Regions from separate parts of the Homo sapiens genome. Here all the other regions are linked to region 1. The links come from fine-mapping of genetic effects on gene expression. A gene starts in region 1. Each other region holds a variant in brackets. All regions are shown on one strand. Distances are from middle to middle.

Region 1 (7,942 bases):
CACTCTGACCAAACCAGACTGAACAACCTGTAATTCGTCAAACATATCAGGTGAGGCGTGAGTGTTCTATTCGGCTCCAGGTTCTGTGCATGCTGTTCCCTCCTGGCATGGTTCCTGCCACCTCTCCCCCAAATACAGGTAATCTCCTCAGGTCACAGCCTCTTTGACATCTTATTTATTTTTTTTGAGATGGAGTCTCGCTCTGTCGCCCAGGCTGGAGTGCAGTGGTGCGATCTCAGCTCACTGCAAGCTCTGCCTCCTGGGTTGATGCCATTCTCCTGCCTCAGCCTCCTGAGTAGCTGGGACTACAGGCACCCACCACCATGCCTGGCTAATTTTTTTTTTTAATTTTTAGGAGAGACGGGGTTTCACCATGTTAGCCAGGATGGTCTCAATCTCCCGACCTCGTGATCCGCCTGCCTTGGCCTCCCAAAGTGCTGGGATTACAGGCATGAGCCACTGTGACCGGCAAATAATTTTTAAAGCTAATATTTTTATAAGTAGTTACAATGCACCAGATACTGCCTATATATATAACTAATTTAATCCTCACAACCTTATGAGGTAGATACTAGCATTTCTATTCTACACTTGAGGAAACAGGCACAGATAAGTGGAAGTGACTCACCCAAGGTCCTACCAAACTGTTGAGTAGCAGAACCCTGCCAATTTGGCATTAGTGGCCGGCTATTTAATCATGACTCCACGCTACCTTTCAAATAAAAGCAGATGGTAAGGAAAGGACAGCTGTGAGGACTGAACCATTAAGCACATTCCCCTAACAGAGAAAGGGAATTGCAAAGGTGGCAGAACAAACACAGTAACAGATGAGTTTTAAGGTGGAATTAAAAAAAAAACTTTAGGCCGGGCGCCATGTCTCACGCCTGTTATCTCAGCACTTTGGGAGGCCGAGGCGGGTAGATCATTTGAGGTCGGAAGTTGGAGACCAGCCTGGCAAACATGGTGAAACCCCGTCTCTACCAAAGATACAAAAAATTAGCTGGGTGTGGTGGCACGCACCTGTGGTCCCAGGTACTCATGGTGCGGCCACCATTGCATCTTGGGCCTCACTAACCAGTTCCCGTTTGTTGGATTCAATACTCTCTCACCACACAGGCCAATCTTGTGTTTTATTAATTTTTTTAATTTTTTTTTTTTTTTTGTAGAGAGGGGCTCACTATGTTGCCCAGGCTGGTCCTGAACTCCTGAGGTAGGAGGATCGCTTGAGCCTGGGAGACAGAGGTTGCAGTGAGCCGAGATTATGCTACTGCACTCCTGCCTGGGTGACACAGTGAGACTCTGTCTTAAACAAAACAAAACAAAGAAAGGCCAGGCGCAGGGGCTCACACCTGTAATCCTAGCACTTTGGGAGGCCAAGGTGGGTGGATTATTTGAGGTCAGGAGTTTGAGACCAGCCTGATCAGCATGGTGAAACCCCGTCTCTACTAAAAACAGAAAAATTAGCCAGGTGTCGTGGCTTGCACCTGTAGTCCCAGCTACTCAGGAGGCTGAGACAGGAAAATTGCTTCAACCAGGGAGATGGAGGCTGCAGTGGGCAGATTCGCGCCACTGCCTGGGTGACACAGTGAGACTCCATCTCAAAAAAGCCCAGGGTGCTTGGCGCCAAAAAAGGGATCTCTGACCTTGTGTTCATTATGACCTTCAAAAGAGTGAAGTGGTGAGGGCATGAGGGCAGAGGAAAAGAAGGGCTTAAGACAACGAAGGAAAAGAAGGCACCAGAGTCTAGTGCCTTTGCCGCCAAACCTAAACCTATAAGGTTGGCAGCAAAACCAAAGCACAAACTGATAACAAAGGAGGTAAAGCCAGGGGAGAAGAAACTGAAGACGTCAAAGACAGAAATGAAGCACATCATCTGGTTTAAAACAAATGATAGAGTTTTTACAGTTCTGGAAAATGACCGTATAATATTCTCTGCTAAGAAGAATAACTTCTGCTAAACAACCATAAGACTGCAGCTGGCTCTACTCAGATCTGCTTATTCCAACAAGACCAAGGTGCTAGTTCTAACTTCGAGTTGTCCCTCTGTATGGCTGCAGCGTTGCGCACAGTGGACTGCCGGTCACAAGGAAGACTGGATGAGCGTGGGTTCACACAACATTTCCCACACTTGCCTCAGCAAAAGAACCACCTGGGACACTTGTTTAAAAATGACAGATTCCCACGGTCCACCTCGGCAGATTCTGATCCTGCCACTCCAGGGAGCTGTATTTTTCAACAAGTACACCAGGTGATCACGCAAGTTTAAGAAATTAACACAAGTTGGCCGAGCGCAGTGGCTCACGCCTGTAATCCCAGCACTTTGGGAGGCTGAGGCGGGAGAATCACGAGGTCAGGAGTTCGAGACCAGCCTGGCCAACATAGTGAAACCCCGTCTCTACTAAAAACACAAAAATTAGCCGGGCGTGGTGGCGCACACCTGTATTCCCAGCTACTTGGGAGGCTGAGGCAGGAGAATTGCTTGAACCCAGGAGGCAGAGGTTGCAGTGAGCCGAGATCGCGCCACTGCACTCCCGCCTGGGCGACAGAGTGAAACTCTGTCTCGGAAAAAAGAAAAAAAAAGAAAAAAGAAATTAACACAAGTCCCTGCCACTGGAAAAGCTTATCCGTCAGGCTGGCTCCTCCTCCACCACCAGACCCCATCCCGGTACATCACGTTTACATGCATGCGGAAAATGGGCTTGGAGATTCTTGATTCAAATCCGAGGTATCACACATCGGCCCCCAAAGGTCAAACATTAAGAAGGAAGCTTACTGCCCTGTCCCAGATTTTTCTAGGTGACTTCTTCCTCCGGACTCTGCAGCAGTCTTTAGTTCTAAAAGCACAAGCGGACCGCACGTCTCAACGCGGGAAAACAGTTCCATCTGCAGGGATGGAGGACCGGGCTAGACAAGCTGGAGTTGGCTCTGCGCCGCAGGGGTGTGCAAGCCCGAGACGGGGGAGCCCGAGGTCACCCCGGCCGCCCTGGCATCGGGGCTGAAGTGCAGGCTCCTGGAGGAGCGGTGCGCACGCCCAGGGGTAGCCGAGAACACAAGCCAAGGCACGAGCGGACAACCTTACGGGGACGAGTACTGGCGCCCGGACGCGACTTCGCGAGAGGCCAGGCGGAACCCACTGGAAGCGTGAGCTAGCGGGGACCACCCCCGGGCGAAACCAAAGGAGAAAGAGGGGAACCCAGGGGTCCCGGGGCGCTTAGGCCCGCGCGGACGGGGAGGCCAGAGTTGCCCCGAAGCTATCTCCTTACCTCACCGGTCCCCACGGGCTCCGCGCTCAGCTACAGCCCGGCGGGAGCAATGCGGCAGCCACAACAGTTGCCTGGGGTCGCCGCGGGCCGGAAAGCGGGGTTCGGGGATGGGAAGGGGGCGGGGCGAAGCGAGCAAAAAGTTCCGGGGAAGCCGAGACCGCGACCTTCCGCGCTTTACGGCCCCCGGGCAAGGGTACTGCCGGCGCGTGACCTCAGCAGCGCACGAGCGCGCCGTGACGCCTTCGCGGAGCCCCGCCCCTGCCACGTGGGCTTGTTTGGGTCTCGCGAGGCACCGCCCCCGCGGCCTCTTTGCCACCCTCAGAGGCGAGCTGTGGAAGCCTTGACTCTTAGGGCCGTTTTAGAACCGGGGCCTCGGACCGGCGGGGTTTCTGCACGTGGAACCGGAACATCTGAGATGATCGCAGGCCCTGTGGAGTGTGGGGAGCGCGGGAGTTCTTTCTTCCCTCGAGGCCCGTGCCAGGGCTTACTCCAAAGCCAGTGGGTCCCCAGTCCTAAGCCAAGCAGTCCCGGGGGAAAACGCTTCTCATCGCCGTGGGAGCGCGGATCTTGGAAGTGGCTCTGGGCTTTCTTGGGCGAGGCTCTCACAGAGTAGATCGGAAATCCATTCTGCTGGCCCGCCCCACCTCGGAGGACGGACTAACGGACCTGAGTTCCCGGCCCTATCTTACTCTTCTCAGCTTCTCAGCTTGGCTCAGCTCAGAGGAAGAGGAATCACTGAAGTCTCAGAGAAGTCTCCACTCATCCCTTCCTCACTGTCACATCAGCCTTTTCTTTCCTTCTAGAACTCATCACTGACTCAAGGATATAAGTTTGATGACTGTCTTTTCCACTGGTGTGACACGATCTCTGTCGACAGAACCTTAGTCTTATGCATAGCTTTATTCTCAGCACCCAGAACAGTGCCTGGCACCTCTTCCACTGAATATTATATGCATAAGGGTCTCATGCTGCAGCCACCATTGCATCTTGGGCCACACTATCCAGTTCCCGTTTGTTGGATTCAATACTGTCTCACCACACAAACCAATCTTGTGTTTTATTAATTTAAAAAAAATTTTTTTTTTGTAGAGATAGGCTCACTATGTTGCCTAGGCTGGGCCTGAACTCCTGGCCTCAAGTGATCCTTCCATCTCAGCCTCCCAAAGTCCTGGGATTACAGGCGTGAGCCACTGTGCCTGCCCCAATCTTGTGTTTTATTGCTGGCCACCTGTAGCCAGGCACTGTGCAGGATGATGGGATCCAGCAATGTACAAGAAAGAGGCGGTTTCTGCTCTTAGGGAGTGGCAGTCAAGTTCCAGGGACCCCTCTGTCACAAGGCCAGGCCACAGCCTACATAGTTTATACCCCATTTACTGGCCAGTCAAATCACACAAAGACAGCCCAGATGAGGTCTGCCAGACAGTGGACTGAAACTATGCCATAGGCTCCTGTGCTAGATAAATACTTCCATATTTTAGCTAGGATTGAATGCTTGGGGACACCTACCTGTCTAAAAAAAGAGAAAACGGCTGACCAATTTGAGACATTCTCGGGGAAGGCTTTCCTGATGCCCAGATGTGGCGATTTCATGAAAAATATCACAGGTTTTCCTCATGAACCATTTGGTTCAAGCCATTTCCAGGCACATGAATTTGGGAGAAACCTGGTTGTCTGCAGGAGATGGTGGATGAAATCAAGTGAAATACTTAATGTGTTGATTTCATTCTGTTTACGTGCAGTAAATAGCAAACAAATGGTGTAGATCTGTCCCTGATTTCCTTCTCCATCACCATGATCGGCCTCCACTCCAAAATGCTAAGTCAGGCTGGGTGCGGTGGCTCATGCCTGTAATGCCAGCACTTTGGGAGGCCAAGGCAGTTGGATCACGTGAGGTCAGAAGTTCGAGACCAGCCTGATCAATATGGTGAAACCCCATCTCTACTAAAAAATACAAAAATTAGCTGGGCGTGGTGGCACATGCCTGTAATCCCAGCTACTTTGGGAGGCTGGGACAGGAGAATTGCTTAAACCCAGGAGGCGGAGGTTGCAGTGAGCCAAGATTGTGTCACTGCACTCTAGCCTAGGCGACAGAGCGAGACTGTCTCAAAAAAAAAAAAAAAAGGGAAGTAAGTCCTAAGGCCCCTTTCATTGTCAAAGATGGGTCTTGTCCTTAGTAGGTTCTCATAACCACTGATGCACTATTTTTTCTAGGGGATTGAGTGTTTTTATTTTATTATTATTTTTTAGATGGAGGCTCACTCTGTTGCCCAGGCTGGAGTGCAATGGTGTGGTCTCGGTTCACTGCAACCTCTGCCTCCCAGGTTCAGGGGATTCTCCTACCTCAGCCTCCCCAGTAGCTGGGACTGTACAGGCGTGCGCCACCACGCTGGGCTAATTTTTGTATTTTTATTAGAGACAGGGTTTCGCTATGTTGGCCAGGCTGGTCTCAAACTCCTGACCTCGTGATCTGCCCACCTAGGCCTCCCAAAGTGCTGGAATTACAGGCGTGAGCCACCGCGTCCAGCCTATTTTTATTTTTTGAGATTAGCTCTCACCCTGTCACCCAGGCTGGAGCACAGTGGTGCAATCACGGCTCACTGCAGTCTTAACTTCCTGGGCTCTAGCGATTCTCCCACCTCAGCCTCCCGAATAGCTGAGACCTCAGGCGCGTGCCACCGTCCCCAGCTAACTTTTGTATTTTTTGGTAGAGGTGGGGTTTCACTATGTTGCTGAGGCTGGCATTAAACTCCTGACCTCAAGAGATCCACCTGCCTTGGCCTCCCAATGTGCTGGGATTAGAGGCATGAGCCACCATGTCTTGCCCTAAACAGACGTTTTAATTACGCTTGTCAAGTCCTCTTGTGAAATCTTCATCTGCAGTGACTTGGTAAATGTATTTGCTACCACACAGGATAAACAGTGTACAGACAAACATTTGACATACCTATGTTACCACAGTGTAAGAATGAATTTGGATCTGAGGTCGCTAAGATGCAGGCGTTTATCTTACCTCCCTGCAGCACCGGCATGGCTGTGGGGAAGGCCTCCCTCCTCCCTCTGAAGTTCTTGTCCCCATCAGTAGACTGGACATCTGCCTACAACCGACTTCACAGAAAGGACCTGACACCTGGCATGCTTCTCGTGTGCTTGAGAGCCTGTGTTTGTGTGGAAAGCAGGGATGTTCTCATTCACACCATGGGAAGAGAAGAATGTTGCGAGTAGCAATCAGTACTCTTTTTTTTTTTTTTTTTTTTTTTTTTTTTGTGAGACGGAGTCTTGCTTTGTCACCCAGGCTGGAGTACAGTGGCGCGATCTCAGCTCACTGCAAGCTCTGCCTCCCGGGTTCACGCCATTCTCCTGCATCAGCCTCCTGAGCAGCTGGGACTACAGGCACATGCCACCATGCCCAGCTAATTTTTGTATTTTTAGTAGAGACGGGGTTTCACCATGTTGGCCAGGATGGTCTCGATCTCTTGATCCACTGCGCCCAGCCAGGAACTTCTTTTTTTTTTTTTTTTTTGAGACGGAGTCTTACTGTGTCGCCAGGCTAGACTGCTGTGGTGCGATCTCGGCTCACTGCAACCTCCAACTCCCTGGTTCAAGGGATTCTCCTGCCTCTGCCTCCTGAGCAGCTGGGATTACAGGCGTGTGCCACCACACCCAGCTAAATTTTGTATTTTTAATAGAGATGGGGTTTCACTATGTTGGCCAGGATGGTCTCGATCTCCTGACCTTGTGATCCGCTCGCCTCGGCCTCCCAGAGTGTTGGGATTACAGGCGTGAGCCACTACACCCGGCCTGGAACTTCTCTCTCTTTTTTTTTTTTTTGAGACGGAGTCTCGCTCAGTCACCCAGGCTGGAGTGCAGTGGCACCATCTCGGCTCGCTGCAAGCTCCGTCTCCTGGGTTCACGCCATTCTCCTGCCTCAGCCTCCCGAGTAGCTGGGGCTACAGGCGCCCACCACTATGCCCGGCTAATTTTTTTGTATTTTTAGTAGAGATGGGGTTTCACCATGTTGGCCAGGCTGGTCTTGAACTCCTGACCTCAAGTGATCCGCCTGCCTTGGCCTCCCAAAGTGCTGGGATTAGAGGCATAAGCCACCACACCCAGCCTCACTAGTTTTATTATCCACTGACTCGACTTGCTTGAGACGATTTTACTATGGTGGTTATCAAATGGTAACTTTCTAATTCTGTAATTCCTTCTGTGTTTATTAGCTCAAGGTCTATGGGATGCAGTGTTGATAGGGTTCTGTCTACTTCACTTGCCTCTGTTCCCAGGGCCTAGCTCTCCAAGTCTTTCAACTGAAATCCCGTAGTATACCCCAGGTTCCCTCCTTTTGAGAGATCTTGAAAACTGTCTACTCAGCTCATTGCAACCTCTGCCTCCCAGGCTCAAGCGATTCTCCTTCTTCAGCCTCCTGAGCTGGGATTACAGGCACACGCCACCATGCCTGGCTAATTTTTGTATTTTTAGCAGAGATGGGGTTTCTCCATGTTGGCCAGGTTGGTCTTGAACTCCTAACCTCAAGTGATCCACCCACCTTGGCCTCCCAAAGTGCTGGAATTACTGATTTCTTTCTTTCTTTTTTTTTTTTGAGACAGGGTTTCACTCTGCCGCCCAGGCTGGAATGCAGTGACGCAATCTCAGCTCACTGCAGTGACGCGATCTCAGCTCAC
Region 2 (7,942 bases), 140 kb after region 1:
CAGTTGGTTCATTTATGGGAAGGTTGCAGGGGGCATCTTTGAATCACAGCCTTCAGATGCCAGAAGGGCAGAGAGAATCCCACATGGGCTGGTGGATCATGTGTGTGCATTTCTCTCCCTTCTAACCTGAGGAAACTAAGCATGAAAGAATGTGAGCATGCAGAAAAGGAGAGGCAGGTATCAGAGGCAGAGGAAAATGGGAAATTGGATATGAAAGAAATACACACCTACAAGTGAGTTCAGAAACTGAACCCCACCCTCCTGGGAAACGCCCATTGGAGTGTTGTTTTTAACCTCTGTACAATGTTTAGACCCAGTAAATGCAGAAATAGAAACAAATGGTCAGAAGACATATCGTGAGAGAGAGAGAGAGAGTTCACAAAACAGAAAACAAAGTACCTTAATATTTACCAGTGACCAAAAGATGTGAAGCAGCAAAAGGTCTCCTGACCCCATTGCCAGCTAGACTGTGTAGAAACTCGGTTCATACCAGCCATTCTAGGGGTGGGGTGAGTTGTTGTCATCCTTAGGAAAGTGTGTTGTTGTAGGATCAACCACATCCTTCAAAAGGACTATGCCTGTTTATAAGCCCAGCTGTTTCTGCCCTGTGAAACACGGTAAGGATATTAATACAAAGAGAATACAGCTTTATGATAAAAGATGCTCAGTGAAGGATGAATTAGGGATATACTGAGAATGGGGAAGGAAACTATCATCTCAGAAGTCAGCAGGCAGTAAGCAAGAGGAGGAATCAATATAGCAACAGTTTGGATCAGACTGTACAGTTTTTTTTTGTTTTTCTGAGATGGAGTCTCGCTGTGTCACCCAGGCTGGAGTGCAATGACGTGATCCTGGCTCACTGCAACCTCCGCCTCCCAGGTTCAAGTGATTCCCCTGCCTCAGCCTCCCGAGTAGCTGGGATTACAGGTGCCTGCCACCACGCCCGGCTAATTTTTTGTATTTTTAGTAGAGACGGGGTTTCACCGTATTAGCCAGGATGGTCTCAATCTCCTGACCTCGTGATCCATCTGCCTCGCCCTCCCAGAGTGCTGGGACTACAGGCGTCAGCCACCGCGACCAGCTCAGACTGTACTCTTATAGCCCTCTGAAATACGTTTTCTAGGTAGAGATAGATTGTGTAAGGGTACAGTTATGAGGATAACAGAAACGTGGCAGATTATTTAAAATCATCCTGAAAGTGGTGCTTTATCTGATGAAAGTGATTGTAATCCATAGGAAAATGTTTCAACGTGCGCAAGAGTTGCGGTGGCGGGCAGAGGACTACCACAAATGCAAAGTAAGGAGCTTCCTCCCCGCAGTTGCAGGATAGTTCAGTGCTGATGCAGATGATGCCACCGCCCTTAGACTCTCTCAACATTCAATTTCTCATGTGTTGGCTTTTTCAGATCACCCCCTCTGCAAGAAAGCCTCTTTGCAACTGGGTAAGTTTGTTTGTTTTCCTTGCTTTTGGACAGTCTGCCAGGTCAGGACATGGATACATTTTTCTCCCTACAGCTCTGTGCTCAAGCCCTGCAGAGGGAGATGGCAGAGAGGAAGGCTGCCTACAAGCATCACAGTCCCATCCCTGTTGGTAACCGTGTTGTGCAAAAACACCTTCATCCCCACCCAGTGGGGCCCCTGATCTAATATTCAAAGTGTCAGAGGTTCCATATTTGTAATAGCAAATGGGCCCTGACTGTAAATTAGTGAAGAGTGAATGTAACTTATTACCCACAGGGACAATTCCAAATGAAGGCCTTAAATGATGCTCAGCTAAGCTGGTTCTTGTGTGGCCTCTGTACCTTCAAAAGCTGCCGAGTCCTATGATTACACGTGATGGGACTTGTACACTTGAAGTGAAACAGTTTTAAAACTTGCTTTGTTTAGAATTCCCACCTCATTTTTCCATGGACAAAAGTATTCTTTATGTCCTAGTGCACTTACAATTTGGTATTACCTGGGAGTGAAAAGAAATATTACAGCCATGCCTAACTGACTTCTTGAGGTAAGATTGTTCTGTCAGAAAACCCTCTCCCAGTTCCCCTGCAGCTCTTCAGGAATCCACATCTCTGCAGAGCTCTTTGTTCTCATGGGTGGCACCTCCAGAGTGAAGAAGATCCTTTATCAAGAAGGGAAACAGGGGAAATGAGAGGGTCCTGCAGGCAGAGCTGGAATCAACTTCCACTCTGCCTCTTGCAAGCTGTGTGACCCCGGGCACAATTTCTCCTTCCTCTGGAAACCTCTGTTTTCTTAGATTTGGAGCAGGGTGGTCACACTGACCTTGCAGAGTTCCGAGAATCAGAGACAGAACATAAAAGGCCTGGAAAACATTCTCCAAAAAGAAGCTGCAACATGTGTGGACAATGGGCTTTTCATGCCTCTCTTACTGTCTGTTGACCTGGTGCAAGAAACATGCTCTGGTGATGGCTGTGAGGGAGGAATGAGGATAGACATAGACACTCCTGTGTCTCAAACATGCCTCTTTATTACTCTGTTATGACTCTGTCTTCCCTGGGGCAGGACCCCAGCCTGCCTACATTTGCAGACAGACACAGTGGCATGTGGAGACAACAGTGTGTCCCAATGACTTTTCTTTACTCCCCAGCTGTCGGCAGTACTCAGTGGAAGGGTGATATTATGACACTGATACTGCTATTTTGAAACCTGGAGGATGGAAAGGTGCAAAAATCTATCACCAGCAACAGAAGGTGCAGACCGTGTTGGTGGCGGTAATTTTGTCCATCAAATGAATATGTGTGAAAACATTCCCTTCTTCGGCCCTACAGGTCAGAATGGCGGCAGCGGAGCATCGTCATTCTTCAGGATTGCCCTACTGGCCCTACCTCACAGCTGAAACTTTAAAAAACAGGATGGGCCGCCAGCCACCTCCTCCAACTCAACAACATTCTATAACTGATAACTCCCTGAGCCTCAAGACACCTCCCGAATGTCTTCTTATTCCCCTTCCACCCTCTCCTCTTCCACCCTCCGTGGATGATAATCTCAAGACTCCTCCCTTAGCTACTCAGGAGGCCGAGGCAGAAAAATCACTGAAACCCAAGAGGCAGAGGTTGAGTAAGCTGAGAACAGGTCATTGCACTCAAGCCTGGGCAATAAGAAGAAATCTGTGAGTGGAACAAAAGAAAAAAATCAAAAAACAAAACAAAACCCACACTCCAAAAACAAACTAACAAAGAATAAATAAATAATATAAAAATAAAATAAATACTGCAGTCCTTATGTTATTGCTTTGTTTCAATATCGGTATGATTGCCTGAGGGACCTGAGGTTTTTAATTGTAGGGGTTTTTTTTAGTCTTTAGAAGTGGTTGGTTATGTAAAATATTATTATTATTTTTTGAGACTGGGTTTTGCTCTGTCAGCCAGGCTGGAGTGCAGTGGCTCAATCACAGCTCACTGCATCCTCAACCTCCTGGGCTTCAAGCAATCCTGCCTCAGCCTCCCAAGTAGCTGGGATCACAGATGTGTGCCACCATGCCTGGCCAATGTTAAAAAATCCTTTAACTTTTTTGTAGAGATGCACTCCTGGACTCAAGCGATCCTCCTACTGGTCCCGACCACCAGCCTCTTTCTGATAAACATTTACACTGTTTATTATCTGATGCCATTTCTATCTTCTTCCTTGTCGTCCAGACATCAAAGAATTAGGTTTCTTCAGGGTTTTCTTTTTCAAGTCTTCATTGTTAAAGATCACTCACATTAGGGCCAGACACCACGACTCATGCCTGTAATCCCAGCACTTTGGGAGGCCGAGGCGGGCAGAGCACTTGAGGTGGGGAGTTTGAGACCAGCCCGGCCAACTTGGTGAAACCCCACCTCTACTGAAAAACATACAAAAATTAGCTGGGCGTGATGGTGCATGCCTGTAGTCCCAGCCACTTGGGAGGCTGAGGCATGAGAATCGCTTGAACCCAGGAGGCAGAGGTTGTAGTGAGCCAAGATCACATCAGCACACTCTAGCCTGGGTGACAGAGCGAGACTCTGACTCAAAAAATAAATAAAATAAATATCACTTACATTAGATATACCCAAGGGGTGGTCTATAGAGAGTTGGAAGCAGTGGTTATTGCAACAGGGGCACGGAAGTCATCTGGCTATGCCAGGATGCCCAGGGGATACTCGGGGTGGGTGGCATGGTGGTGCTGGGGACTCACCGCACAGGACGCTCTGATTGACGCACTGCCAGGAGTAGCGCTCTGTCTTGGGGCTGCAGCCGGCCTCCTCAGCTCCAGTGTAACAACAGTCGTGGCCATGGCAGCACCTGCGGATGTCACATGGGCAGGACAGCAGGTGGGTGAAGCTCTCTCCTGGCCCTCCTCTGCTGCCAGGACCATGGGTGACTGAAGACCCCCAGGGAGGCACAGCATCCTCTAAGATTTTTTTTTTTTT[T/CTTT]TTTTTTTTTTTTAAGAGACAGACAGGGTCTTTCTCTGTCGCCCAGGCTGGAGTGCACAGGCACAATCATAGCTCACGGCAGCCTTGAACTCCTGGGCTCAAGCGATCCTCCCACTTCAGTGTCCCAAGTAGCTGAGACTACAGGCACACGCCAGCATGCCCGGCTGGTTTTTTAATTTGTATTTCCTTTGAGACAGCGTATCTCTCTGTCGCTCAGGCTGGAGTGCAATGGCTCAATCAATCAGCTCACTTTAGCCTTGAACTCCCGGGCTCAAGTGATACTGCCACCTCAACCTCCCAAGTATGCTACTACAGGAACACAAACTCCTTTTTTAAATTTTTTGTGGATATGGGGTCTCACTATGTTGCCTAGGCTTGTCTCGAACTCCCAGGCTCAAGCAGTCCTCCTACCTCAGCCTCCCCAAATGCTGGGATTACAGGTGGGAGCTACTGTACGCCTGGCCTTATCTAAGCTGTTTCCCTGAAAATGCCCGTCTTGGGTAATGATTCCATTGGCCCCACCATGCCCTGTCCTGCCTTCCTGGCTGTGCCCAAGCTTGGTCCCTGCCTGCCTGCCTGCCTGCCTCACTCTCTCTCTGGGTCTCGAGCTCCTGTGACACGTGACTCCTCTCTCTTCCTGGAGTGATCCAAGCCCTGCCACTTCCTGACTTTGCCCACACTGTACCCTCTGCCTGGGGCAACTTCATGTCTGCCCATTGTCCCTTAGGCCTCAGCCCAGGCACAAGCCCCTGCCTGCGGAGGTCATCCAGGCCTCACCAGGCTACACCCTCTCGTAAAATTGGATTCCCTCCCTTCAGGGCAGGTTTATAATGAAACCCTCCTCAGAGGCCAGCTGCGGTGACACCCATCTGTAATCCCAGCACTTTGGGAGGCTGAGGTGGGAGGATCACTTGAGGCCACGGGTTCGAGACCAGCCTGGGCAACATAAGAGAGACTCTTGTCTCTCTTGTCTCTATAACAAATTTAAAAATTAGCTCCCCAGGCCAGGCTCAGTGGCTCATGCCTGTAATCCCAACACTTTGAGAGGCCGAGGCAGGTGGATCACGAGGTCAGGAGTTCGAGAGCAGCCTGACCAACATGGCGAAACCCTGTCTCTACTAAAAATACAAAATTAGCCAGGCATGCTGGCACGCACCTGTAATCCCAGCTACTCGGGAGGCTGAGGCAGGAGAATCGCTTGAACCCAGGAGGTGGAGGTTGCGGTGAGCCAAGATCACGCCATTGCAGTCCAGCCTGAGCAACAGAGCAAGACTCTGTCTCGAGAAAATAAAAACACACAAAAAATTAACTCGCCATGATGGCACATGCCTATAGTCCTAGCTACTTGGGAGGCTGAGGTGGGAGGATTCCCTTCAGCCCAGGAGTTTGAGGCTGCAGTAAGCCACTATGATTGTGCCACTGCACTCTAACCTGGGCAAAAGCGAGACCCCAGGCCAGAGTGCATGATTTTGGGTCACTGCAACCTCCACCTCCCAGGTTCGAGTGATTCTCCTGCCTCAGCCTCTTGAGTAGCTGGGACTACAGGCATGTGCCACCACGCCTGGGTAATTTTTGTATTTTTAGTAGAGACAGGGTTTAGTAGAGACCATGGTGAAACCCCGTCTCTATTAAACAAATCTCTACTAACCCCATCTCTACAAAAAACAGCTGGGCATGGTAGTGCACACCTGTAATTCCAGCTACTTGGGAGGCTGAGGCACGAGAATCATTTGCATCTTGGAGGCAGAGTTTGCAGTGAGCTGAGATCGCACCACTGCACTCCAGCCGGGATGACAGAGCAAGACCCTGTCTCAAAAAAAAAAGAAAAAGGAACAAACAACAGCAACAACAACAACAAAACCTCTGTGTCAATCACAGCCTTCGAGCTAGGGGAGAGGCGGCCGAATTCTGCCCTCTGCTGACGAGCTATAGCTTTGTGGAGATGGGTGAGTGGCATGCCCTTGTGAGCCTCAGGGCCCCATCTGTAAAATGGGCCTAACTGTCATGCCCGTCTTTAAGAACAGCCTTGGGGGTAAATGAGTGGAAGTCATGGAAAGATCTCAGCCCACAACCTGCCACAGAACAGGCGCTTCTCACACAGTAAGTAGCAGGAGTGCAGAGGCTGCAGGCATGAATCCAGCCAGACTGCCTGGGTTCAAGTCCCAGCTCCCACGTCTTGGTAACTAAGTGGCCTCAGACAAGTTACTTAGTATTTCTTTTTTCTTTTTTTTTTTTTTTTTTTTCCAGACGGAGTTTTGCTCTGTCACCCAGGCTGGAGTGCAGTAGTGTGATCTCGGCTCACTGCAACCTCCGCCTCCTGGGTTCAAGCAATTCTCCTGCCTCAGCTTCCTGAGTAGCTGGAATTACAGGCACCTGCCACCACACCCAGCTAATTTTTGTATTTTTAGTAGAGACAGGGTTTCACCGTGTTAGCCAGGATGGTCTCGATCTCCTGACCTCGTGATCCGCCTACCTCGGCCTCCCGAAATGCTGGGATTACAGGCATGAGCCACTGCACCCGGGCGACCTGTTTCATTCTGCTTTCTTCCCATCTGGCTACTGACCTCCCCTGTCCTGGTGTCATCTGCTGTCATTCATGATGACCCTGCTCATTAGCTGCCCTACCTGTGCTCCATGCACTCAGCTGTGGCGATGCAGGAGGAAGTCCACCTGGGGAGTCCACTCCTGAGCCAGGAGTCCAGAGCAAGCATCTCCAGCCCGCTTCCAGGTGCTTGGCCCCGTGATGGTTCATTCATTTATTCTCCAGACCCCTACTGAGCACCTGCCTCATGCCCAGCCCTGAGCAGACAGCAGTGAGCAGGTTCCCACCCTCACTCTCTGGTGTAGAGCTGTCCTCTCTGGTAGCAAGTGCTGAGAGACGGGCCCAAAACCAACGGTACCTCCATCAGGTGATCTGGCCGCGGGAAGCACAGGGGTGGCATCACCTGACTTCCCAGCCCTCCTTGAAGCTGACTCTTGCCTTTAAACCCATGGAGCTTTCCTTCTCTTTTTCTTGTTCTCTTTCTCTTTCTTTTTCTTTTTTTTTCTTTTTCTTTCTTTCTCTTTTTCTTTTTGTCTTTTTTGTCTTTCAAGAAATTGAGGCCAGGCATGGTGACTCACGCCTGTAATCCTAGCACTTTGGGAGGCCGAGGTGGGTGGATCACCTGAGGTCAGGAGTTCAAGACCAGCCTCACCAACATGGAGAAACTCCATCTCTACTAAAGAAAAAACAACAACAACAAACACAGCTAGCATGGTGGGAGATCACATCATTGCACTCCAGCTTGGATTTCAGAGTGCGACTCCTCAAAAAAAAAAAAAAAAAAAAAAAAGCCAGCCGGGCACAGTGGCTCACGCCTGTAATCTCAGCACTTTGGGAGGCCAAGGTGGGTGGATCACCTGAGGTCAGGAGGTCGAAACCAGCCCGACCAATGTGATGAAACCCCATCTCTACTAAAAATACAAAAACTAGCCAGGCATGGTGGCGTGCACCTGTAGTCCCAGCTACTCAGGAGGCTGAGACAGGAGAATCG
Region 3 (7,432 bases), 42 kb before region 1:
GACACCGGTGGTCAGGAAGTTATGCTGCCCTCTCCTCTTGAACAGCTAAGATGCTTGGACACTAGACAGAGGCAAAGCAGTTATGCCAGAAGCAGGGGAGAGTCATTCACTGTCAGATCTGTCTGTTCAAAGAGCTCACATTAGACCAATCACAGAAAACCACCAGACTCACACAGCTTGTATTTGAATGAACCAGGAGAGACTTCAAGGATCAACTCTAAAGTGCTAGAAGAGAAATCTGTGTTTGGGGCACTGAATAAACAAGTGATGTCCTAGAAGATCAACACCCCATCAGTCTTAGGAGTATGACCCTATTCATGGACAAGGGGTTTCAATGGACAGCCTGAGTGCTCAGCCCCCCATCCTCCTCTCCTAGCAAGACAAGCAGTCTGTTGCTCAGAGGGGGAAACTGATGTCATTTAACAGGAGGTCAGGATTTCTGGTTCTACTTCAACAAACAGTGCATAATTTTGGACACAGCATCAGATTTCCTGACTTCTTACAAAGGACAGCTAATTAAAAACGTGTCAATCTGTAGTAATTAGTTGGAGATTAACAAGGGCAGAAGAGAATCCAAGTCTTAAAACTCTATGTGGGATACATTTCTGATGAAGCTTCTATTTGACTAATATACTGTGATGATGGCACTATTCGATTTTAAACTATGGAGACAGCTTTTATTATTTCGATTTGGATCCTGGTAAGTGGTGATACTGCTATGTAACAGTTAAAGCACAAATGTATTGCCATAGTTAAGGTTGAAGAGTTATGTCTATGTGTAACTAAATTCTTCTGGATTCAATTACAAATACGTTTTCCTTTACAAAGATGGCTTTGGAGGGGTGCAAATGCTACGTGTTTGGAAGAGCAGAGGAGGCCTGCAGCTCTCAGTCACCTGTCTCCATCTTCGGAGGTAAGTCTGCTCCCTGCTGGTAATGCCTGCATCTGCCCAAGGGCCTGTTCCTCCTCTCCCAAGGCCTTCACAGCTGGTGTTCACTGGTTGGCCCTCCAGCCGGCAACACCTCTCCTCCTCTCTGCCTAGAGGCAGCATCTCTCGGCTAGTTAAGTACATACTTGCTCCAAGACAACTAGACCCCCAAACAGAATTCTAATCATATGCTCCTCTAACAAGCCAACCAGAACCTTCCAAAAAGGTTTAGGCACTAAAGTCAGTAATCACTAGGAGTGGTCTAGTTGGGGAAGTGGCAAGAAATGTCTAGAAGGAGCCAGCGTAAGTGGGTAAACAGAGATCCCAAAGAAACACCAGAGAAGGCAGACACCTGAGCATTTTAAGCTGCTCTAATGAAATGGAAGGATGTCCCTTAATACACTTATAGACCTATCAGAGCTAATGCTTCCAAGATACCAACACGCCAAAGGCTAGAGTTTTACTAACCAAAATGTCTTATAGCAGTTTATTTGCACTTAAAAAAAGTCAGATTAGGGCAGTTGATATGCAAGGGGAAAATGAAGCATTGAGGCTGGACAACAGTCCATGATATCTAAGTTTCACCTTGGGAAAACAGAGACACTGCCTGAAAGCGCAGGGCACTTCTGGGCACCCACATTGTCTCCTGCTCCAGAGGATATGGAAGGGTGGGTGGAGGGAAACAAAGAGCCTGGGGGGAAAGGAGGAAAAGCGGTCTCTAGCCTTATGCAACGTACACCCTTTGGACTCAGAACTCTCAGTGGACTAACGTGGGTCACCTCTGTGTAGCTCTGCTCTGTGCTGGAGAGTCAAACCTGGAATTCCGGCAGCTCTCTGGAACTCAGCACAGCCCGCAAGGTTGAAAGGCCCAGGACAACACACCTGATCCCTTCCCCTCCCTATTCTAAAGGGAGAGAAACATGACTTTATGGGCCAACTGTGAAAGGGACAAGTGAGGCTGACCTGACAAAGTCAAACGCACTGGGAGAAGGGGAAGGAGGAACGGCTGAACTTTGGACAGCTGAGAGAAAAGCAGCATTGTTTCCATAGCAGAACACTCAGCATCACTGGTGGGGACTTTCTAAGGTCAGACCCTTTTGACTGGGAAAAGCAACACACAAGGCAATATGGTTTTTCCCTTTCAAACACTGTGGCTTACTTGTTTACTCAACTAAGAAAGAAAAAGCAACCTTATTATAGAGATTAGCAAGAGATGAAGAAAATTATAGGGAGGCTGCCCTGGCCCAAAGGTCTGCTAATGGCTTCTGCAGGGAGGATGAGGATGGTGCTAGGTTAACTGCTTGTCTCCACTACAGACCAGAGAACGTCCATGCGATGCCTCTTATCAGTGAGGTAGATAATCATCCTCTTGCCAGAGGTATCGAGTGCCAGCCCACAGCACAGCAGAACAGGAGAACGAGCTGCCGGGCTGCAGGCACGAGCTGCCCCTCAGGGCTGCATCCGACACA[C/T]GGCAACCCCACCAGAACTAATAGGCTGCTCCAAGAAAATGGAACCCAAGGGAGAGGGACTCGTGCCCTGAGACCTGCACCACCCCGGCTTGCCCTGCCTTGAGATGCAGAATTTGAAAGCAGCTGTCACCATCACTCATGTCCACAGTGGAGCTTGCTTCTGTCCTGTCAGACATACCTCCTGCCACCACGAGAAGCTGAGTGAGGGGTGGGAAGGGAAGAAGAGCCCAGAGTGAATATTAGGAGGAGGAGGTGGAAGGGCAAGGAAGGCTGCAGAGCAAAAAAGTTTAAAGTAGGTCAAGTTCAAAATTATATCAAGGAGATAAGAGATGGGAGGCAAAGGCTCCAGAAGAGGAACAGAGGCGGAAGGAAGAGAAGCTCCAAGGTGACGCCCACTCTAGGACAAGATGATGGGGAGGAGGTGAGGCTGCCCTGGTGGCATCACTTCCCATGTAAGTCACTCAGCTCCATGTCATCCTTTCGGCGCTTCTGGGTGAAGAGGGAGGCGACAGGGTAGAGCTTGGCCTTGGCCTGGAAGCGGTATCCCGCGATGTCAATCTCATACTCTCCCCGGTTGATGAAATCTGCTGTCACCACTTGCTCTTCCCCCGTGTCCTCAGAAAAATTGTGCACAAAGCCCAGGCAAACGTGGCGCTCCAGGCTGTAGCTGTAGGCACTGCTGGTGGTCTTGCCAACATACTGCCCATTCCGGTAAATGGGCTCTCCCCACCAAGGCCAAAGGTCTAGGTCTGAATCATGGTCGTCCAGGATGAACATGGTGAGGCGTTTATACACTCCATTCTGCTTCTGCTGCAGGAGGGCGTCGCGACCAATGAAATCCATGCCCTAAGAAAGAAAGGAAACGCCGAGTCATCCAGCGACACTCAGACCCTCGGCACAGAGAGCAGCACCGTGGGAAGGGTCCCCTGGTGTCACTGCAATGGGGCACAGCCGCCTCCTCCCACAACCCTGCCAGCTTTTGGGAAACTGTGCGATTTCTACCATGTGAAAAACTGCATGTGAAATATAAAAGACGCCGCGGTAATTTTTGTAACAACAGAGGTACGCATTTTGTTTCCTATTTTATAAACATAAAGTCACAAGACCAGATAGAACAAAAACGTTTAGGAAGAAAACTCACTCACTTAATAAAATACCTTATCAGTCCAGTACTTTAGAAAAATGTTTTTATATTGGCCAGTCGTGGTGGCTCACGCCTTGAACAGAGATGAGGCAAACCTCATCTCTACTAAAAATACAAAAATAAGCTGGGTGTGGTGGAGTGTGCCTATAGTTCTAGCTACTTGGGAGGCTGAGACAGGAAAATCACTTGAACCTGGGAGGCAGAGGCTGCAGTGAGCCAAGATTCTGGTGGAGTGTGCCTATAATTCTAGGGAGACTGAGACAGGAAAATCGTTTGAACCTGGGTGGCAGAGGCTGCAGTGAGCCAAGATTGCACCACTGCAGTCCAGCCTCGGTTGACACAGCAAAACTCTGTCTCAAAAAAAAAAAAAAAAAGACTTTTTTATATAATCCCAACAAGACCATGCACATCTATATTCAATGCATACACACATATATACACATATGTACAACAAATAAGACTAGAATAAACTATTAACGGTGATTATGGCCAGGCACGGTGGCTCACGCCTGTAATCCCAGCACTTTGGGAGGCTAAGGCGGGGGGATCTCCTGAGGTCAGGAGTTCGAGACCAGCCTGACCAACCTGGAGAAACCCCATCTCTACTAAAAAAAGAAAAAATACAAAAATGCCTTCTCATGCTCAAGTGATTCTCCCACTTCAGCCTCCCAAGTAGCTGGGCCCACAGATGCGCCACCACACCCACCTAATTTTTTGTATTTTGGTAAAGACAAAAAATACAAAATTAGCTGGATGGCTTACAGCTACTCGGGAGACTGAGGCAGGAGAATCGCTTGAAGCCAGGAGGCAGAGATTGCAGTGAGCTGAGATCGCGCCACTGCACTCCAGCCTGGACAACAAGAACGAAACTCCGTCTCAAGAAAGAAAAAAAAAATAGTTACTACCATTAAATAGACAAAATATGGGTGATTTTAATTTCCTTCTTTATATTTTCCAAAATGGGTTATTACCTTTTTTTTTTTTGGAGATGGAGCCTTGCTCTGTCACCCAGGTGGGAGTACAATGGTATGATCTCGGCTCACTGCAACCTCTGCCTCCCAGGTTCAGGCAATTCTCCTGCCTCAGCCTACCGAGTAGCTGGGATTACAGGTGCCTGCCACCATGCCCAGCTAATTTTTATATTTTTAGCAGATACGGGGTTTCACCATGTTGGCCGGGCTGGTCTCGAACTTGTGAACTCAGGTGATCCGCCCAAAACAAAAAAACCAAAAAAATTAGGCCGGGTGTGCTGTCTCACGCCTGTAATCCCAGCACTCTGGGAGGCCGAGGAGGGCGGATCACCTGAGCTCAGGAGTTCGAGACCACCCTGGCCAATGTGGTGAAACTCTGTCTTTACCAAAATACAAAAAAATTAGCTGGGCATGGTTGTGCATCTGTGGTCCCAGCCACTTGGGAGGCTGAAGTGGGAGGATCACTTGAGCATGAGAGGGCATTGCAGTGAGCCAACATCGCGCCACTGCACTCCAACCTGGGTGACAGAATGAGACCCCACCTCAAAATCAAAAACAAAAGAAAAAAACCACAAAAATTAGGCAGCTGACTATAGGACGACTAGTTTGTACAAATATTCGTGGCATGTTAATGCATCACCATAATTAACTCAGAATAGCTTCCCAGAAAGCACTCAGTCTTTTAGACAGCAGAACACTAGAAATAAGTGGGTTTTTTTGTTTGTTTTTCAATTGTAATTCAGAGACAAGGTCTTGCTGTATTGCCCAGGCTGAGCTCAAGTGATCCTCCTGCCTTGGCCTCCCAAAGTGCTAGGATTACAGTTGTGAGCCACCGCACCTGACCAAGTGTCATCTATTTACTATGTTTTCTTTTTTCTGAGACGGAGTCTTGCCCTGTCACACAGGCTGGAGTGCAGTGGTGCGATTTTGGCTCACTGCAACCTCTGCCTGTTAGGTTCAAGTGATTCTCCTGCCTCAGCCTCCCGAGTAGCTGGAACTACAGGTGCTGGCCACCACGCCCAGCTACTTTTTGTAAATTTTTTTTTTTTTGAGACGGAGTCTCGCTCTGTCGCCCAGGCTGGAGTGCAGTGGCGTGATCTCGGCTCACTGCAACCTCTGCCTCCTGGGTTCACGCCATTCTCCTGACTATAGGCGCCCGCAACCACACCCGGCTAATTTTTTGTATTTTTAGTAGAGACGGGGTTTCACTGTGTTAGCTAGGATGATCTCGATCTCCTGAACTTGTGATCCGCCCGCCTTGGCCTCCCAAAGTGTTGGGATTACAGGTGTGAGCCACCGTGCCCGGCCTACTTTTTGTATTTTTAGTAGAGACGGGTTTTGCCATGTTGGCCAGGCTGGTCTCGAACTCCTGACCTCAGGTGATCCACCCGCCTCAGCCTCCCAAAGTGCTGGGATTCAGGCGTGAGCCACCATTATTATGTTTTCATTTGAAGATATTTTATCCTATAAAGTTTTCATTCTCAGGGCACTCTTGTCCTCATTTACCTGATGCTAACATCAAGGCCTCAATCTTTTCCCCCTTTTCCTGTCACATCAGTTCTTCTTCCTAGTCTAGTGCAGATTCACTACTCGGGATGCTGAGTGAAAGTGGAGTCTGGGTAAACACAGTACCTTCTCTAATTTCACCCGAGACTCTCGTCCACATTCCAGGGGCGTGGTGAGGTTATTTATATCCTGACCCCAGAAGGCAAAAAACTTCTCAATTCGGAGACTGCGAAGAGCGTAATACCCAGCATTCCGGATTCCGTATTTCTGGCCAACACTCATCACTTCATTGTATACATGCAGGGCGTACTATAGGAAGAGACAGAAAGTTCATAAGCAGCAGACCTTCAGAATTAAGCATGGAGCATGTCTGGAAGCGCTGATGGCTCACACTATTAACATGGACAAGAGAGGAGGCGTATAAAACTCCCAGGATGTCTCATCCTTGACACGCTCAGGGCACAGCCCAGGAGTGATGAGCTGGGGTCACCCCAGCCTGGACTTAAGCTCCATGACAACAGGATCCATGTCTTTTCACCTCTCTAAAATGTCTTGTGTGGTGATTCTAGCTTACAGCAATTCTTAAATAATAATTTATAGAAGCTCTCTCACCATTTGGTAAATGGCCAATCTCATCATCATTTCTAAAACAGCCCACCAACCCTCCATGGTCTTCATCTGATTCTGGCTTTGTTCTTTTGCTCCAATTTCCCAACCACTGTTACTCCCTCACGTACTGGCCCAAGCTGTGAGGCCCAGCTCTCACACGTTACTCGAGACGTGTGCACACATCGGATGACGGCGGGGGAGCCAGGAAGGCAGGGCTCGCCTGCTCATGTCCCACAGCATTCAGGCTCTCAAGCTGCTCTTTTCTTGGTTTCAGAAACATGTACGTTATCAGATCAGTGAACAGAAGGTTTTCCAAACTGAAAGCAAATATTCAATCCCTGTCTGAACATACGCTGTTAAGTTTAAAGTCCAACAAAAATGAGACTACACTGTTTGCTTTTAAAACTGTAAAATGAAATCCAAAGCAAGACGTAGCAAAGAACCAGCTTCAGTGGTACTGCAGTTCTTTATCCTAGCACAGTATGTTTCTATGAACTGCACCACTGTAGCTGAACAGGCATCTACCAAACAGACCACTATGATCAAGACAACTTTATTTACTTATTTATTTTTGAGACAGAGTTTTGCTCTTTTGCCCAGGCTAGAGTGAAGTGGCGCGATCTCGGCTCACTGCCATCTCCACTCCCGGGTTCAAGTGAATCTCCTGCCTCAGCCTCCCGAGTAGCTGGTACTATAGGTGGCTGCCGCCACACCCAGCTAATTTTTGTATTTTTAGTAGAGACGAGGTTTCGCCATGTTGACCAGGCTGCTCTCGAACTCCTGACCTCAGATGATTCACTCACCT
Region 4 (7,942 bases), 65 kb before region 1:
GCACCCTTCTTATAGGGGACGATTGTCTTCCCGTTGACCTCCCAGTTGCCTCTGTGAGGACGAGCAGGCACCACAGGGTGTGGGAGGGCCTGGCCTTGGGCAAGGCAGAGGCAGGGCCCTGCTGCCTGCCCCCCTGGCCCCTTCAGCTCCTGCGGCCAGGCCAGGGAGTCAGGGAGCTGGGTGAGATAGGGAGATTCCCTGGGAGAGAAGAGATGGCCTCCAAACCAATCCTGGACAAACTCCCTGATACCAGGACCAGTATCCAGGAAGGGACATCCGCAGAGCAGCACCTTCTGCGTGGCCAGAATCTTTAGCACCCTCTGCCTTTCCTCTCCTCCCCTCTCCCACCAAGGGTGCAGAGCAAGGCATCAGGGACTCTACTTTCGGGTGGATGTGTGGGAATCTCACCCTCGGTGAAAGCACCCCTCCCTGTCTCCCAGACATCCCAGCAGAGGGTGTAGCAGGGCTTACCTGGGGGAGTAGGCACAGACAAAGGCTTCTATCGCTGCCTGGCCTGCAGAGCACAGGTGCCGCCCACAGCCCAGCTGGCTTGAGGTGGCCCACACGAGCTACAGGAGACACAGGGGATCAGAAACCCTATTGTGAACCACCCCTGGGGAGGGGGACACAGCTTTCGCTATCATCCAGGTGAACAGAGGGCTCCCTTACCTCCTCGAGGGCTCAGGAGCAGCAGCTGTCCTGGGCAGGGGTAGAAGCATGGGTGGGAATAGTTCAGGAAGGCTTATTTATTTATTTATTTATTTATTTATTTATTTATTTTTGAGATGGAGTTTTGCTCTTGTTGCCCAGGCTGGAGTGCAATGGCCTGATCTTGGCTCACCACAACCTCTACCTCCTGGGTTCATGTGATTCTCCTGCCTCAGCCTCCCGAGTAGCTAGGATTACAGGCCCGGTTAATTTTTTTGTATTTTTAGTAGCGACAGGGCTTCTCCATGTTGGTCAGGCTGGTCTTGAACTCCCAACCTCAGGTGAACTGCTTGCCTCGGCCTCCCAAAGTGCTGGGATTATAGGTGTGAGCCACCGTGCCCGGCCTAGGAAGGCTTTCTTAGTTGAGAGGGGGATGGAGAGGGGAGGTACCTGAAATGAGGGGAGATTGTTGATGGGTGGAGGGGAGTAGCCAAAAAAAGACTGGAACATCAAGGGCCTTGTGACTGCATGGTGACCACAACCATTCATTTCTTGCACCAGGCCACTCCTTTAAATGTGACTCTGCAGCTTTTTGCAGCAAAGAGAGGTGTCTCTTTCCTTGCTCCTTGAATCTGGCTGGCTCTGTAACTGGTTTGGCCACCAGAATGCCACAGAAGTGATACTGAGCCGATTTTGAACCTAGGCCTTAAGAGACCTTGCCATTTCCACTCATTCTCATAGAACCATGCTCAGTCACCACATGAACAAACTCAGTATAGGAGTTTGGAAGGCCTCATGGAACAGAGATGAACCATTAGAGGCCTTTTTGCACAGCCAGCTCCCAGCCGGCCCCCTAGTTGATTGCAGGTGTATGAGTGGGCCCAGCCAAGACCAGAAAACCTCCCTGCTGAGCCCAACCCAAGTGGCTGACCTGCAGAATCGTAAGCTGCTAAATTTTGGGGTAGTATGTCATGCAATAAAACCTAATGGATACAGGTCTGCAAACCAGTTTAAAGTCTTAGAATCAGCAACAGCTTGGAAATAGCACAAATGGGCAATATATAAGAAGAGTGAAACAAACTCTCCAGTAGAGACTAAAAATGACATGTACAAGACTGGCTTGTAGCAGGCAGATGTGAACATGTGATCATATACATGTATCCAACACTTAAAGAATATGTATCGTTTTTAGGAATGCATGGGACTTTTGCAAACCAGAAAGGAGGACCATACATTAGACCACTAAGCAAGTTTCAACAAATAGCAAAGAATCAGCACATCCTACAGCCCACATTCTATGAATTCAATGCAATGAAATTTAAAGTAAATAATTTACAAGTAAATAGAGAAGATAACATAGTTTAGAAACTTAAAGATACACTTCAAAATCTAAAACAACATCATGGCCAGGTGTGGTGGTTCACATCTGTAATCCCAGCACTTTGGGAGGCTGAGTTGGGTGGATCATGTGAGTTCAGAAGTTCAAGATCAGCCTGGCCAACATGGCAAAACCCCATCTCTATTACAAATACAAAAAATTAGCCAGGCATGGTGGCACACACCTGTAGTCCCAGCTACTCCGGACCTGAGGTGAGAAGATCACCTGAGCCCAGGAAATTGAGGCTGCAGTGAGCTGAGATTGCACCACTGCACTCCAGCCTGGGCGACAGAGCCAGACCATGTCTCAAAACAAACAAAAACAACATCATGATTGGAAATAGAAAAAACATCAAAACTTATTGGATGCAGCTGAAATCGTTTAAAGGGAAATTTATAGCTTTAAATGTATATAGTAGAAACAAAAAATGATTTAAAATTAATGATCTAAACATTCACATCAAGAAAATTAGAAACAATAATAGAGGCTGGGCGTGGTGGCTCAAGCCTGTAATCCCAACAGTTTGGGAGGCCGAGGCAGGTGGATTACCTGACGTCAGGAGTACTAAAAATACAAAAATTAGCCAGGTGTGGTGGCAGGCGCCTGTAATCCCAGCTACTCAGGAGGCTGACGCAGGAGAATCTCTTGAACTGGGGAGGCGGAGGTTGTAGTGAGCTGTGATCGCACCACTGCACTCTGGCCTGGGCAACAGAGCAAGACTCTGAATCGAAAAAACAAAAACAAAAACAAAACAAACAAAAAACAACCACCAACAACAAAACAGAGTTAGGTTTTTCACACCTTTGAGTCTGACAAAACTTAAGGAGCCAAGGCTGGGCACAGTGGCTCACACCTGTAATCCCAGCACTCTGGGAGGCCGAGGCAGGCGGATCATGAGGTCAGGAGATCAAGACCACCCTGGCTAATACGGTGAAACCCTGTCTCTACTAAACAAAATACAAAAAAATAACCGGGTGTGGTGGCGTGTGCCTGCAGTCCCAGCTACTAGGGAGGCTGAGGCAGGAGAATGGTGTGAACCCAGGAGGCGGAGCTTGCAGTGAGCCGAGATCGCGCCACTGCACAGTAGCCTGCGCGACAGAGCAAGACTCCGTCTCAAAAAAAAAAAAAAAAATTAAGGAGCCAGAAGATCTTCGGGAAGTGGGAACTGGTTTGCTGGTCTGCACAGTTGGCGTAAGCACTTTGGCAGCACCTAGTTGTAGGGGCACATGTTCTTCTTTTTACTAAGCCAGGGTTTTACTCCTGCTGCCCAGGCTGGAGTGCAATGGCGCAGTCTCAGCTCACTGCAATCTTCACCTCCCAGGCTCCAGCAATTCTCCTACCTCAGCCTCCCAAGTAGCTGGAACTACAGGCGCACACCATCACACCTGGGTAATTTATGTATTTTTTTGTAGAGGCAGGTTTTTTCCATGTGGCCCAGGCTGGTCTCGAACTCCCGGGCTCAGGCAATCCTGCCACCTTGGCCTCCCAAAGTGCTGGGATTACGGGCGTGAGCCACCGCACCCAGCCTTGTGTAATATTTAAACATGCACAACCCACTTGCACAGGTAGTGGAGGTATTAAATATTTCCTGGGATTTTGCTTGTGTTTTTCAGTGCATCTGAAGAGCACCAGGTGTGTGTAGAAGACCCTCAACAAATATTTGTTGAATGAAGAGAAAAAATGGAAACTTGCTTGGCAGTGATGCTCCTGAACTTTGGGAAGATTCCCTCCAGGGAGGGACAGCGGGAAAAGGGGAGGAGCAGGGCTTTAGTTTAGTAGCATCTTCTAAACCTAGGTAGTGGGTAAGAGTGGGGCCGTTTTAAATTTACGTTTGAGGCTGGGTGCGGTGTCTCACACGTGTAATCCCAGCACTTTGGGAGGCCCACGCAGGTGGATCACTTGAGGTCAGGAGTTTGAGACCCAGCCTGGCCAACATGGTGAAACCCTATCTCTACTAAAAATACAAAAATTAGTGGGGTGTGGTGGCTCGTGCCTGTAGTCCTAGCTACTTGGGAGGCTGAGGCAGGACAGTCACCTGAATCTGGGAGGCAGAGGTTCTAGTGAACCGAGATCAAGCCATTGCACTCCATCCTGGGTGACAGAACAAGACTTCGTCTCAAATAAATAAATAAATACGTTTATGTTTGAAATTATTTATATTTCAGATTGAAAAAAAGTGGCTTAGGCCAGGCATGGTGGCTCACGCCTGTAACCCCAGCACTTTGGGAGGCTGAGGCAGGCAGATCATTTGAGGTCAGGAGTTCGAGACCAGCCTGGCCAACATGGTGAAACCCTGTCTCTACTAAAAATACAAAAAAATGAGCTGGGTGTAGAGGCGCACACCTGTAATCCCAGCTACTTGTGAGGCTGAGGCACAAGAATCGCTTGAATCTAGGAGACGGAGGTTGCAGTAAGCTGAGATCACGCCACTGCACTCCAGCCTGGGGTGACAGACTGAGACCATGTCTCCAAAAAAAGAAAAAATGTGGCGGGGCACAGTGGCTCACGCCTGTAATCCCAGCACTTTGGGAGGCTGAGGTGGGTGGATCACTTGAGGCCAGGAGTTCAAGACCAACCTGGCCAACATGGTAAAACCCTATCTCTACTAAAAGTATAAAGCCATTAGCCAGGCCTGGTGGCACATGCCTGTAGTCCCAGCTAGTCAGGAGGCTGAAGTACAAGAATCACTTGAGTCCAGGAGGCGGAGGTTGCAGTGAGCCGAGATCACGCCACTGCACTCTAGCCTGCGCAACACAGCAAGACTCCGTATCAAAAAAAAAAAAAGTAAAACTAAACCAATTGGAGGAAAAGGAATCCCAACATTTAGGACAAACTGTAGCCTCTTCTGAGATGGACCAGTGGAAGTCTGTATCTGGGAGCTGGCACGCTGGCCTCACCTGCAGCACACTCACCTGCGTGTAGTGGGTGCAGGTGGCGTTGCGAGCACACTCTCCTGCCGCGTGGCTGTACCGCTGCCCCTCTGCAAACCATAGGCTGACCACTTCAACAAAGGACGCCAAGCCCGCGGGCAGCAGCTGCATGTTCCAGCCCACTTGCAGGGTGCGCCACAGGCCGGA[C/T]GCCAGGCTCGGGGTTGGGATTCCACAGAGGGCTGCCCTGGCTTGAGCCAGTTGGGCCAGGCTGTCACTCCAGTCCTGGGGGCAGCACAAACAGACATCTGTGGGAGGCCTTTGACTGCTGGGCCAGGCCTCAAAGATTCAACTCCCCTGCCATCTCTGAGCATCCACCGGGTGCCAGGTCAGGTGGCAAAGAGAGCACTGGATGAGGAGTCCTGCTGGAGGAAGCACTGGTGTTGTCTGATGTCCCTCCAGGAGGAGCCCAGCTCCTCTCACGACTGAGCCTCCATCTCCAAATCCTGTCGTGGGCATCCTTCGGCCCTGCCCAGGCAGTGGGACCCGCTCCTGCTGTCTTTCTCCCATCTGGTCATGTGAGCAGTGCCCACGCGTTGCAGACTGGTTCTGTGTTTGGGCCCTGGCCATTGTCAGAAAGGCTCCACTGCTCCCACCCGGCCATGCTGCCCTCCTGTGATGCAAAAAGCCCTACAGCCACGCCTCTCTGCCCTAGTCTCCTGCCCCCAGGAGCCTGGCCTCATATGCTCCCCACCACGCACAGCTGACCCCGCCCCCTCCCTCTTCTTTTTTTTTTTGAGACAGAGTCTCACCCTGTCGCCCAGGCTGGAGTGCAGTGGAGAAATCCCGGCTTACTGCAACCTCCGCCTCCCAGGTTCAAGCAATTCTCCTGCCTCAGCCTCCCAAGCAGCTGGGATTACAGCCATGTGACACCACACCTGGCTAATTTTTGTATTTTTAGTAGAGACGGGGTTTCACCATGTTGGCCATTGCTGGTCTCAAACTGCTGACCTTAGGTGATCTGCTTGTGTCAGCCTCCCAGAGTGCTGGGATTACAGGTGTGAGCCACCGTGCCCAGCCCCCTCCCTCTTCTTAAACAAGTGGGCCTGGCAATCACCACCCCTGGGTGACTTGGTGCAGTCCCCTGATCTCCCGAGACTCCCTGAGCTCATCTGTAAACGGAGCAGGGAGGTGCCTGCAGGATAGGACTCACAAGCACTGAGTGGATGCAGGGAGGGGGGCCCCTCGGGGCTGCACCCCAAGCCAACTTCATCCTGCACTAATGTCCATCGGGGTTTTACCTCTGATGAAGGCTGGGGCCAGGAGCTGGGGGCTCCCCGGGGTCCCTCAGCAGCCCTCCACCCCCACAAGACCTTCAGTCTCCACTGTGTCCAAAGAAGGGGTGCCCTGGAGCCCTAGAGGCCCGGAGGGTGCTCGGGGCCGGGCCACGAGGGAGGCTGAGCCATGGAGCTCCATTTGCACCTTTATGGAAATGAAGTTTTCTAAGACTTTGACAAAAGGGCCCTGGAAAGGGTGCCAGCTGCCAGCCAACGACCACCGCAGCCCCTCCTGGGGTCCCAGGCAGGAGTACCCAACCACGGAGGTCACAGCTGGGAGCACCCCTGGTTGCCCAGGGTCTGAGCCTGAGGAGAGGCAGAGCCACTCAGGGCTGGGAATGGGGGAGAAGCGACCCCCCGCATTTAGCCACCCCACCCCCACCTCCTGGGAAACTGACCCTAGAGTGCTCAAGGTCGCCACTGTGGCCACCTGCCTTGGAGGAGTTCATGGGAAGCAGCCATGGGGAACCCTCCCGCCCCCACCACCCTGCCCTGGCTCCCTGGCCTGCTAACATGGGCTGGGGCTGCTGGGGTCCCAGACAATGGAGGGCAGCGTTTCTGAGCCTCCAGATGACAGTCCCAACCCCGCAGCCCCAGCCGGGCTGGTGGGGAACTCTATACCCCCGACCCCCGGCCCCTGCTGAAAATGTGGAAAATGTGGACGAGTGAGTGAGCAGAGAACATGGGCAAGGCCCGTCCTCGTGGCTCAGATAAGCTCAGGAGGAGGCGCTGGGTCCTTGCCGCACAGAAGCCCCTCCCCAGCCCAGCACGACCTTCTCCCTCCCTGGCCCGGCCGCCCATCCTGCAGGGCTCCTCGTGAAGCTCCCCTTCCCTGGAGGAGGGGATCCGGCTCCTCCTGTGGCTCCTGGTCTCTGTGGCAACAAGATGCCAGGGAAGGCCCAAGGTCCTGCCCTTCAGGCGAGTGGGAGCCAAGGGGCCCGACCTCCTGAACTGAGGGTGGGGGGTTAAGAAACTGCAGAGACCCCCAGCAACCAGGGCCTCCGTCCCTCAGGGGCAAGGTGGCTGGCTGTGCCTGCCCACCCTGGTCAAGTGGAAGGGCACCTGGACAGGCGTGGCCTCCTGAGCCGCCCTCTGGGGTCCGCGCCTCCGGCCACCCCCCTGGCAGAGCCCAGCTGGGTCGGGTACTCACCAGCCTCCGCATGTCAGCCGCAGGGGGCTGGACCCAGCTGCGCAGGCGGTTGTGCAGGGAGAGGAGCAAGAAACTCTCCTTCCTGTTCAGGGCTGGGGTGGAGAGAGAAGGTCAGGCAGCCCGAGGATGGGGGGACCTGAACCCAACACACGGCAGAATAAGCATGTGTCCCTGCCCTTGGAAAACAAGATGGGAGAGGAGTGTGGTGGGTGCAGGGGACGTGGGGCATAGCAATGGAGCGAGGCTGAGAGAGAGACCAGGTACAGCAGGCGTGGGCTGAGTGCTGGGGTTGGGGTGGCGGGAGGGAACAGCGGTGCGGGCTGGGTGTAGGGGCCAGCCCTGGCTCCCGCAGGCCCCTGTCTGGGGCTCCTCCGGGCCACGGATTTCTCCAGGCCCCAGCCACAGCGCTCCTCGGCGTTCCTCCTTGACCCCAGCCCTGGTCCTCCTTCCTCCTCCTTCCTCCCCAGTCCAGCATCCACCCCTCACCGCCCCCGGGCTGTCCCAGGGCTTCCTCATTAAACCACCCGCACGGCCTGGGGCTCAGGCCTGGGACCGGGCTTCC

Evidence for each region.
Region 2: its variant is fine-mapped to the expression of PDPR in whole blood (INTERVAL, PIP above 0.99).
Region 3: its variant is fine-mapped to the expression of PDPR in lung (GTEx, PIP above 0.99). The same link has a PIP of 0.9 or more in breast, esophagus mucosa, fibroblasts, subcutaneous fat, sun-exposed skin and thyroid.
Region 4: its variant is fine-mapped to the expression of PDPR in whole blood (GTEx, PIP above 0.99). The same link has a PIP of 0.9 or more in sun-exposed skin.

The regions. Positions count from the first base shown.
Region 1 is chr16:70,109,762-70,117,703 of GRCh38, reverse strand. PDPR (pyruvate dehydrogenase phosphatase regulatory subunit) reads right to left here and starts at 3,372. Exons shown (of 19, transcript NM_017990.5): 1 at 3,264-3,372; 2 at 2,774-2,883. RefSeq lists enhancers at 1,896-2,838, 3,359-3,408.
Region 2 is chr16:69,971,577-69,979,518 of GRCh38, reverse strand. It overlaps the pseudogene PDXDC2P-NPIPB14P and the pseudogene NPIPB14P. Among named protein-coding and RNA genes, the nearest start is that of CLEC18A, 24 kb to the right of the region's middle. RefSeq lists an enhancer at 6,553-7,053. The variant T/CTTT (reference allele first, on the strand shown) is at 4,410.
Region 3 is chr16:70,152,286-70,159,717 of GRCh38, reverse strand. PDPR (pyruvate dehydrogenase phosphatase regulatory subunit) reads right to left here. Exons shown (of 19, transcript NM_017990.5): 18 at 6,145-6,327; 19 at 1-3,243. The coding sequence ends at 2,839. LOC400541 (a long non-coding RNA gene) reads left to right here. Exons shown (of 3, transcript NR_126007.1): 2 at 829-913; 3 at 3,214-3,378. Among named protein-coding and RNA genes, the nearest start is that of CLEC18C, 18 kb to the left of the region's middle. The variant C/T (reference allele first, on the strand shown) is at 2,398.
Region 4 is chr16:70,174,477-70,182,418 of GRCh38, reverse strand. CLEC18C (C-type lectin domain family 18 member C) reads right to left here. Exons shown (of 13, transcript NM_173619.4): 3 at 7,381-7,472; 4 at 4,939-5,178; 5 at 472-569; 6 at 1-51. Among named protein-coding and RNA genes, the nearest start is that of CLEC18C, 4.7 kb to the right of the region's middle. The variant C/T (reference allele first, on the strand shown) is at 5,104.